2 separate regions of the Homo sapiens genome follow, and region 1 is linked to region 2. Evidence: fine-mapped expression QTL. A gene starts in region 2. The other region holds a variant in brackets. All regions are shown on one strand. Distances are between the middles of the regions.

Region 1 (5,362 bases), 25 kb after region 2:
TGGACTCTTAGGCTGAGCAGGACTAAGTTCTGTGGCCAAGGAGCCCGGGCGTTCCGGGCCAGGCCAGCCTGCACAGAGGCTGGGGCGGGACACGGGGCGGCAGTGAGGGGATGTGGCTGGTTGAACAGTGTTGAGCATGTTGAAGCTGGGAAGCTGGGGTCAGGTCCCGGGAGCTGGGGGGGGCTTCCGAGGAGGGGAAGGTTTGGGGAAGTGGGCCCCAGTCCCTGAGGGTGGGAGGGATTGGGGCCAAGAAACCGGGGATGGAGGAGCCCAGGTTGGAGACGTTTGGAACTGCTGGAGGGGCAGCAGCAAGTACGGAAGAGGGTGAGCCGGGACACAGACAGGGACTGACTAGAGGCTCACTGGGAGGCCACCAGAGAGGCCAGGACCTGCCTCACGGGGGGAAGGAAAGGTCACAGCAGTCAGAGGACCCACAGGGCTCTGCAGCATGGGAGGACGTGGGGCACAGGCAGTCAGACTGGGGCGCATCCCCGCAGACCCGCCCCCCCAACCAGACCCAGGAAGCCCCGGCCAGGCCTGTGGGGGGCGTTAACCCCGCTCTACAGACGGGGAAACCAAGGCTAGGAGAACTGTCACTTGCCCAAGACAGCAGGCTCCGGTGATGGAGCCAGGATTCCAAACCAGAAGTCCCACTCCCACCAGTCCCTAAGCACATGAAGTCCAGGCTGAGTTTGGGGACAGCCTTGCCTGGAGGTGAGAAGAAGAATCATAGCTACAGGGAAACTAGCACAGGGCCTTGGCCCCAGGGATGTGGAGGAGACGGGGAAGGCCGCATCGGCCCCGCCTCTGCTGGAGCTGTGAGGTGTGGGGGGTGCGGGGCCTTTGCTTGCTGTACATGCAGATGAGACGCCTACCCCCAGGACCACCCAAACTGTTCCTTGGCTGAGGCCTGTCATAGCCCAAAGGTCACCGTGTCCTTGGAGCCAAGGCCCCAGTGGGAGGAATGAGAACCGCTTTTGTTTGGAGGGGCAGTCACGAGGCGCATGAGGCAGCCGCCCAGCCCTCACCGCCCTCCGTCTGTCTGTCCGTCTGTCTGGCCCAGGCCTACATGAACTTTTACTACAAAAGCACTGAGGGCTGGAGCATTGGCAACGTGCTCCTGGACTTCACCGGGGGCAGCTTCAGCCTCCTGCAGATGTTCCTCCAGTCCTACAACAACGGTGAGTCAGCCAGCGGGCTGCTGGCCACCCTGCGGCTGGGGCATCGGGCGGGGCCAGCCTTCCCGGGACCTTCCAGCCAGGGCTCCACCCCCACCTGGGATCCAAGCCAATCCAGCCCCCAAGGAGAGACCCACCTAGGGGCCTTCGTAGCTGGAGGCTTTGTGGTTTTCTGGGACCCCCACCGCCCACCACCCCACAAGCTCCAGCTGCCTCAGGAGCTGCCAACCTAACACCAGCTTCTGTCCCCCGGCTGCTAACAGACCAGTGGACGCTGATCTTCGGAGACCCAACCAAGTTTGGACTCGGGGTCTTCTCCATCGTCTTCGACGTCGTCTTCTTCATCCAGCACTTCTGTTTGTACAGAAAGAGACCGGGGTATGACCAGCTGAACTAGCACCCAGGGACCCAGTGTACCCAGCCTCTGGCCTCGTGCCCTGCTGGGGAAGGCCTCACCCAGCGAAGGCCGGAGAAGCGGTTGGGCCCTGGCACACAGGGCTGGCTCAGTGTGCGGACAGAGGAGACCACTCTGCTCCTGGGGCCAGAGGCCATTCAATAGCCTGCCTTCGTCCGGGCCCCTCCTGGGCCTCCCCGGCCAGGCACGTGGCACCGTCGCCTTGACACCGCCATCTCTTTTCTTTAAGGCTTCAGGCAGCGCGCACAGGCTCTGGCAGCCGTCTCAGGCAGGACTGGGCACCAAGCTTGCAGCCGAAGGCCTTGCCCCAAACTACCAGCGTTTCTGCAAGCAGCTTGAAGGGCTGACCTTGCAGCCGGGTGAGCCAAGGGCACTTTGCTGCCACCGCTGCATTCCCAGAGATCAAGCAGCCCGGTGCCGTGGCCAGTGAACTCAGAGGTGCTGGTGGACGGGCTAGGACTTTGGGGTTAGGCCATGGGGCTCTTTCTCTGAAGGCCACTTTCCTGACGTACTCTCTGTACATAACTCAGCGTCCGTGACTGCAGTAACAGCCAGCCCTACCCAGAGTATTTCTGAGCCATGAGGGGCCCACCAGATTGGTTCTGAATTGGATTCATGCCCAGCGCATTAGCATAGTAACTCCTTTCAGATTTTTTGGAGGGACGTTTGGAAGTGGCTTACTCTCTTCTGCCCTCTCTCCTACCTCCACCTTCTCAGATTAGCCCCATCTGAGCACATCCAGCTGCTCCTTACCCAGCATCTGGAGTACAGGACATAGCTCTCTCCTGCTACCAGTCTGTGCCTTAGAGGTCTGTTAGGCCTGCCAAACGGCGACCAGCTCCCCTGGAGCGAGGGCAGGCCCCTTCCCTCTCTTTCCCCAGACACCTACTTGAGACTCACCAATTTCTGGCCTGTTCAGGAGCCTCAGATAAGTATTTGTACTTGAGACCACCTCACACAATCTGTATGGGCCCAACCCTGATCTCAAACCTCCTTCCCTCTGCCCAAAGCTGTCCTTCCTATGGCAGGAGGGGTGGGGGTCCCAGGACGTGCCTCATACATGACTTGAGCTTGTCAGTCCACTGAGTTTCCTTCTACGAGATCAACGCGAGGGGCCTGTATCTTGAATTAAAACCTACTCGCTTCCTTTCTGC[ACT/A]CTGTGTGCTCGATACAGAAGGCAGGTGTGCTGGCCTTCAGAGCCAGGTGCCCTGCTCCCCTCGTGTAAGGAAGCGCATAAGGTTGTGAAGGTCACTGACCCGAGAGCGCTGCGTGCTGACCCCACACTTCACTGGGGAGCCCTCTTGGGTAGCGCGAGACGCCTACCCGCCCAGGGCCAGGTCAGTCTCCCAGGCTCCGTGTCTTCACGGTTACCAGGGCACGCCACTCAATCTGGATGTGAGCCGGGGTGGATGAGGTTCTGAAGGGCACACCAGCACTGGGAGCGGGGGCAGTGGGGGTCTTATTCTCCAGACGCTTCCTCTATCTAGTTGTAACAAACGTCAAAGAATGTCAGGTCTTGTTTCTGCAGAGCAGACTTTGGCCTGACGGGGTCCACAGACCTGTTTCACTTGCAACACCCAGTAAATGTGTTACTGGGTGCCCTACTTTAAAAATCAGAGATTTCAAATGATTGACTTTTCCGGCTGAGTGCGGTGGCTCACGCCTGTAATCCCAGCACTTTGGGAGGCCAAGGCAGATGGATCACCTGACATCAGGAGTTCGAGACCAGCCTAGCCAACATTGCAAAACCCCATCTCTACTAAAGATACAAAAATTAGCTGGGCATGGTGGCGGGCACCTGTAATCCCAGCTACTTGGTTGGCTGAGGCAGGAGAATTACTTGAACCCAGGAGGCGGAGGTTGCAGTGAGCGAAGATCACGCCATTGCACTCCAGCCTGGGCAACAAGAACGAAACTCCATCTCAAAAAAAAAAAAAAATTATTGACTTTTCTTTAAAATCTGATTTGGCAGTGCTAGGTAGGTCCAGGAGTGCTAACACCTTCCCAGAGGTGGTACGCAGGTAGTCAGGTGCTCTCTGACTCACCCCCATCTGGCCAGATCACGGCCCCCAGCAACACGTGGGGTTGTGTCCCTCGCTGGGATACACGGAGTGCCCTTATAGGCAGGGAGTCTTATAGGCAGGGGTCTCTCCCAGGCACCTCTGGGTGTCCCTACGGCCCCTCCCAGGTGGGAGCTGAGGCTAGGTTGCAAAAAGGAGGTTGGGAGCAAGTAGGGGCTTCACAGTAACACCCAAGAAAGCACACGCACCCCAGGGTCCCACCCCAGTGCTCCCAGACACTCCCACAGATGTGGTTCTGGTCAGGCGCAGTGCAGCTGCTGCGGCTCCACCAGCCCCGGGCTTTCAGGCAGGTGGGCCTGGGAGTAGTTGAGCTTTGTCCCAGAACAGTGGGGGATGGGGCCATCATTAAAACCACAGCTCTGGCCCCAATATCCCACCGCCACCCCCACCCCGATATCCCAGCCCATGCCTCAGCAAAGCCCCCTGTGAATTCCAGCATTTTTATTGAGCGCACCACATCGGGGAGGGGCGGCAGTGGTTTCCACGGTAACCAAAGTAAGGCTTGTGCACTTGCTGAGCTTCCAGATGCGAATTAGTAAAAGCTAAATTCAAAAGTAGAATGGGCATCTCCAAAGAGTACGATAAAAACATTTTGTATCAAACTTGTGATTAAAAAAATACAAAAGTTAAACCCACAGGCAAAGAGGAAAATGACAATCCTGAGAGCTGCCCTGATAGGTGAGCCTCGAACCTCGTCTAAATCCGTAAGAAGGCAAACCCTGGGGAGGCCAGCACCCCTCGGGAGAGTGGGAGTGAACGCGGAGCCCACCTGGCTTCATCTGGGCAAAGCTTCGTAGCGCCTCTGGCAGGATGTGTGTCCAGTCCCCCGAGGGGCAGAGGCACTGCGGTGTGGACACACGAGGGCTGGGGGGCAGGGGCGGAGCCGAACCCTGCAGCCAGGCAAAAGCGGGAAAGGCCTGGTTCCTCCAGCATTTCCCAGCTTTTGGGGGCTCCCAAGAGATAGTGGTTCCCACTTGCCCAGCCACTGCTGTGGCCAAGCAGCAGGGTCGGACCTGAGCCTGTGGTCACAGCAGACTGGCTACTACTCAGCTCCAGGCCCTTATTTCCAATCCTCGGTGTCCAGGAGAGAAAGCCGGTCCCAGAGGCCCCAGGCCAGGGATGGGAGAAGGGAAGGAAGGCCAGGCCAGGCCTCTGGGACCAGCTATAGCCCTTCTGAGCTGGGGCCCAGCGGTCAGCAGAAGCCAGATGGGGACAGAGTGTGGAAGTGGCGTTACTGTACAGAGAGGCGGCAGGCAGGAGTCGCAGATGGTGGTGGCTGCTAGGACAGCATGGACTGCTGCACGGCCTTCTGCAGCGACTGCCGCGTCACCAGCAGACGCACCACCTCCTCCGAGCGCTTGGTGAGCCGCTTGCGGGCCTGGTCGTGTGTGACCATGGTCATGTCCCAGCCGTTCACCTGGCCCCAGGAGAGAACACAGGCTCACCTCAGCTCCCCGCCCTCTGGGATCTGGAAGCAGAGGGCTTTGGGGGCCCAGGTCATTCAAGTAGGCCCCCAGCCTAACATCCCAGGGCTGGGAGACACCAAGCACTGTGGCTGAGACACACAGGAGAGAAAGCCAGCGTCCTCTGGGGCAATGCCAGTATGGGTTCCCAATTGGCTGCAGTGAGTCTCTCCCAGCTGGGAGGCTGGGGCAGCTCCCCACCCCCAAGTGCTTCAGACCTGCTTG
Region 2 (5,362 bases):
AGCACTTCATTAAATAGGTGTGACACACTGGGTGAGCCTGTAAGCACAGAACAGCCTGCTGAAAGCTGGGGAGGGAGGGCAGAAAAGTTTTCAAGAAGTGGCCGTGCTGCCGCCCCTACTGGGAAGTGAGGAGCCCCTCTGCCCGGCCACCACCCCGTCTGGGTAGTGTACCCAACAGCTCATTGAGAATGGGCCATGATGACAATGGCGGTTTTGTGGAATAGAAAAGGGGGAAAGGTGGGGAAAAGATTGAGAAATCGGATGGTTGCTGTGTCTGTGTAGAAAGAAGTAGACATGGGAGACTTTTCATTTTGTTCCGTACTAAGAAAAATTCTTCTGCCTTGGGATCCTGTTGATCTGTGACCTTACCCCCAACCCTGTGCTCTCTCAAACATGTGCTGTGTCCACTCAGGGTTAAATGGATTAAGGGCGGTGCAAGATGTGCTTTGTTAAACAGATGCTTGAAGGCAGCATGCCCGTTAAGAGTCATCACCACTCCCTAATCTCAAGTACCCAGGGACACAAACACTGCGGAAGGCCGCAGGGTCCTCTGCCTAGGAAAACCAGAGACCTTTGTTCACTTGTTTATCTGCTGTCCTTCCCTCCACTATTGTCCTATGACCCTGCCAAATCCCCCTCTGCGAGAAACACCCAAGAGTGATCAATTAAAAAAAAAAAAAAAGTGGCCATGCTGGGTGCGGTGGCTCACACCTGTAATCCCAGCACTTTGGGAAACCGAGGCAGGCAGATCAGTTGAGGTCAGGAGTTTGAGACCAGCCTTGCCAACATGGTGAAACCCCATCTCTACCAAAAATACAAAAAAATTCTCCAAGCATGGTGGCGCACACCTGTAATCCCAGCTACTCGGGAAACTGAGGCACGAAAATCACTTGAACCCGGGAGGCAGAGGTTTCAGTGAGCAGAGATTGCACCACTGCACTCCAGCCTGGGTGACAGAGCGAGACCCTGTCTCAAAAAAAAAAAAAAAAAAAAAAGAAGTGCTCTATTTCAGGAGAAACTGGCACTTTCTGAGCCTACTCTCCCCTAATGCCAGCTCTCCTGCTCACCCCACCAGGGTCAGAGCCAACTTTGCCTCCAATTCATAGTCCTTTAAGTAAGAATCCTTTTAATATGCCCTAATGTCCCAACCAAACTAATCTTGAAAGCTTCTATGTAGATACAAAGTGCTCCTGAAATCCCTATCCTCAGAAATGCTTCTGAGCCAAATGGGCTCTGAACCCTAAACAACCGTGTCCATGTATGTGGCAAGAGCTTGTGAAAAACAAAGCTGGGCCAGGCGCAGTGACTCACAACTGTAATCCTAGCACTTTGGGAGGCTGAAGTGGGCAGATCACTTGAGGTCAGGAGTTCAAGACCAGTCTGGCGAACATGGCGAAACCCTGTCTCTACTAAAAATACAAAAAGTAGCCGGGCGCGGTGGCTCACACCTGTAGTCCCAGCTACTCGGGAGGCTGAAGCAGGAGAATCACTTGAATCCAGTTGGCGGAGGTTGCAGTGAGCCCAGATCACGCCACTGTACTCCAGCCTGGGCAACAGAGCGAGACTTGGTAAGAAAGAGAAAGAAAGGAAAGAATGAAGGAAGGAAGGAAGGAAGGAAGGAAGGAAGGAAGGAAGGAAGGAAGGAAGGGAAGGAAGGGAAGGAGTCTCGCTCTGTCACCCAGGCTGGAGTGCAACGGAGCGATCTCGACTCACTGCAAGCTCCGCCTCCCGGGTTCGCGCCATTCTCCTGCCTCAGCCTCCCGAGTAGCTGGGACTACAGGCGCCCGCCACCACGCCCCGCTAATTTTTTGTATTTTTAGTACAGACGGGGTTTCACCGTGTTAGCCAGGATGGTCTCGATCTCCTGACCTCGTGATCCGCCCGCCTCGGCCTCCCAAAGCGCTGGGATTACAGGCGTGAGCCACCGCGCCCGGCTGACCAAAGGTTTCTTGGTCCGCATTCTGCTTCTGTGGAATGAGCCAGGAGCCAGTTAGGCCTGATTTGACATCTGATTTCCGGAGGAAAACCCAGACTCTGCCCTGGGCAACAAACTGAATCCTGAACTTGAGGTCACAGGGCAGGTGTGAGGAGCGGAGAGCAGCAAGAGTGAAAGGGAGGCCTGTGGTCATTCCATACACACAAGAGATCAGTTCCTCCAAGGTCAGGGGACAGAGAGCACAGGGATCCAGCGCCAAGCGCAAGGCCCCCAGAAGAAGCCAGAGAGTCGGGGAGGGGGCGGGGGGGAATCGGTCCCAGCAGGTGGGAAGGATTCTGGGACCAGACCTAAGGGATCATGAGCACAGCTGCTGCAGGCAGACGGGCCCCTGGAGAAGCTGGGGACAAGCTGGAATAGAGACTTCATTGCGGGAAGGGCTGTCAGGGAGGCCTCCTGGGGTGGAAAAGGGTGGTCAGGAGGCTCCTGGAGGCGGCGCGGCCCCGGGGGTCCAACTCACCTGGGGCCCGGCCACCGCGCTCTCGACCGCCGCCTCTGCCCGCGCAGCACGGGCACAGCTCGCCAGCACTGCGAACCCGGATGGGTCGTCGGGCGCGGCCCTCAGCAGAGCTGCCTTCACAGATGTGGTGCCCAGGTCAATGCCGAGGGTGATCGGCCGCGCAGCCATTATCTCCCTGACCCGCGCAGCTCCAGTCTGCAGCCAGCGGCCCCACAAGTCCGCGCTCTTCGCCCAGGGGGGCGGGGCAGGGGCGGGGAGTCGCCTGCCAATCTTTCAGCCACACCCAACATGGAGGCTTCTCGTCTTCCCACTGGCCGGGGAAGGCGAGCTTCCACGCAACCTCTCGGCGGGCCCCGGCTATAGGCGGAGAGGCGGCGGAAGGCGGGACCTAAAGGGGGCCCCGCCCCACGGGCTCTGATTTCCGCCCAATGGAGGGCGGTCTGAGCTTCGCTCACGAAAGGAGCCGGGAGGCGCTGGCGGCTCCAAGAGTCTCTGTGTCCCTGGCAGCGGACCTCATCTTCCCTCACGCCGGAGCCCCGATCTCTGCGCCCCGGCCCGACCCAGCTGCGCTCTGTCCGTCTAAGACGCGCGGAAACTACAACTCCCAGAGCTCATCTCGCCGAGATCCGGCCCCACGAGTCAGGTGGCGGAGGTCAGGTGACAGCGGACCCGCCTCTCCCAAAGTCTAGCCGGGCAGGGGAACGCGGTGCATTCCTGACCGGCACCTGGCGAGGCTCATGCGTCCCGTGAGGGCGGTTCCTCGAGCCTGGGGGCGCTCAGGTGAGAGCGGACGCGGCCTCCCCTGTTTCCCAGGCGGACCCCTTGAGGCACAGCAGGTCAGCGGGGCAGCCTGCCGGGGGTCCAGCGCCCTCAGCCGCGGCGGGCTCCTTTCCCCGCCACCAGTGCTGGCCTCGCGACACGGGACAACCCCCGGGTGGAAGGGCCCGAGCGGTGGTCAGCCGAGGCAGGGGCAGCGGGCTGCCGGGGTGGGTGCCGTTCCCAGCCCCTTACCTTCTGCTCAGTTGCCGCCTGGGTCTCGGTTGGGGAATTTGCAGATTGCTTTGGAGACGCTGAGAGAACCTTTGCGAGAGCGCCGGTTGACGTGCGGAGTGCGGGGCTCCGGGGGACTGAGCAGCACGAGACCCCATCCTCCCCTCCGGGTTTTCACACTGGGCGAAGGGAGGACTCCTGAGCTCTGCCTCTTCCAGTAACATTGAGGATTACTGTGTTTTGTGAGAGCTCGCTAGGCGCCCTAAGCAACAGAGGTAACCACTTTATATCCTTGTTTCTCAACCTCGTTATTCCTACCTACCCCCTTCCCATAAAATTTAATACCACTAGTACGCTGTGTATTTGTTTCTGTGGCCACAAACCATTGTAATAGCTAGATTTCTTCACTACCACCCCAAGCCAATTTTTTTTTTTTTTTTGAGATGGAGTCTGCAGCCTCTGTCACCCAGGCTGGAGTGCAGTGGCGCGATCTCGGCTCACTGCAACCTCCGCCTCCGGGGTTCAAGCGATTCTCCTACCTCAGCCTTCCGAGTAGCTGGGACTACAGGCCTGAGCCACCATGCCCAGCTAATTTTTGTATTTTTAGTAGAGATGGGGATTCACCATGTTGGCCAGGCTGGTCTCGAACTCCTGACCTCAGGTGATGCGCTCACCTCGGCCTCCCAAAGTGCTGGGATGACAGGCGTGAGCCACCGCGCCCAGCCTACCCCCAGCCAATTTTAGTCCCACTTGACAATGCGTGCTTTACATCTCCTCATTTAAGTCCTGTGAGGTAGTTACCACCTCCTTGTTTGGCACCACAAGGTCGCATAAGTAATAAATAGGTCAAGCCTGTCTCCAGTGCACACAGCCCTTGCCACTATTTGTGTACCCTCTCCAAAAGCAGGAGACCCAGGGAGTTCCAGGTCGTAGAACAGAGGACAGGACCAACTCATACCTGGCAGACAGGAGCTGCCACACTAGACCCCTAGCCCCAGGTTGCTCCTGGGAAGGGACTGAATGGGTGAGGAGCCTTCTTGAAACATGTGACATCTGAATGAGGCCTGGACAATAGTTAGAACTTACATAGGAAGGGCACGCCAGACAGAGCCCATTGTCAGGAGATACTTCATTTCTATCTTGTAGCTTTCACAAGCCACTAGTTGTATGTAATTATCAATCTGGTTTTTTTTTTGTTTTTTTTTTTTAATTTGAGACGGAGTTTCACTCTTATCACTCAGGCTGGAGTGCAATGGTGCAATCTCGGCTCACTGCAACCTCCACCTCCCGGGTTCAAGCGATTCTCCTGCCTCAGCCTCCTGAGTAGCTGGGACTACAGGCACATGCCACCACGCCTGGCTAATTTTTGTATTTTTAGTAGAGACGGGGATTCACCATGTTGGCCAGGCTGGTCTCGAACTCCTGACTTCAAGTGATCCAACTGCCTCGGCCTCCCAAAGTGCTGGAATTACACACACGAGCCACTGCGCTCAGCCTAATCTGATGTTTTTTAACATTTTAATTGACTTACCTCTCAATGTCGTTTTGTCTCTGCTGGCATCGTTCCTCCAGGGGTCTCAGCCTTTGAGGCTTGGGAATGTTTGCTGACCAAGTCTGTGAGTTTGAGAAGCTGGTTAGGCCTGATTCTGCATCTAATTTCTGGAGAAAAACCAGACTCTGTCCTGGGCAACAAACTGAATCCTGAACTTGAGGCCACAGGGCAGGTGTGAGGAGCGGAGGGCAGCAAGAGTGAGAGGGAGGCCTGTGGTCATTCCATACACGCAGGAGGGCAATTCCTCCAAGGTCAGGGGACAGAGCACAGGGATCCAGCGCCAAGAGCAAGGCCCCCAGAGGAGGCCAGAGAGTAGGTACGGGGTCATTCCCGGCCGGTGAGAAGGGTCTCAGATGAGGCAGACCTG

Evidence for each region.
Region 1: its variant is fine-mapped to the expression of CTNS in whole blood (TOPMed, PIP above 0.99).

The regions. Positions count from the first base shown.
Region 1 is chr17:3,658,795-3,664,156 of GRCh38, forward strand. It overlaps CTNS (cystinosin, lysosomal cystine transporter), which reads left to right. Exons shown (of 12, transcript NM_004937.3): 11 at 1,064-1,181; 12 at 1,442-4,309. The coding sequence ends at 1,575. It overlaps TAX1BP3 (Tax1 binding protein 3), which reads right to left. Exons shown (of 4, transcript NM_014604.4): 4 at 4,101-5,091. The coding sequence ends at 4,954. It overlaps P2RX5-TAX1BP3 (P2RX5-TAX1BP3 readthrough (NMD candidate)), which reads right to left. Exons shown (of 15, transcript NR_037928.1): 15 at 4,099-5,091. Among named protein-coding and RNA genes, the nearest start is that of TAX1BP3, 7.1 kb to the right of the region's middle. The variant ACT/A (reference allele first, on the strand shown) is at 2,748.
Region 2 is chr17:3,633,599-3,638,960 of GRCh38, forward strand. CTNS (cystinosin, lysosomal cystine transporter) reads left to right here and starts at 3,162. Exons shown (of 12, transcript NM_004937.3): 1 at 3,162-3,233; 2 at 3,509-3,718. It overlaps SHPK (sedoheptulokinase), which reads right to left and starts at 2,652. Exons shown (of 7, transcript NM_013276.4): 1 at 2,454-2,652. The coding sequence starts at 2,621. It overlaps LOC105371493 (a long non-coding RNA gene), which reads right to left. Exons shown (of 6, transcript XR_007065579.1): 6 at 4,899-5,362. RefSeq lists enhancers at 204-1,069, 2,908-3,157 and silencers at 2,368-2,427, 3,438-3,527.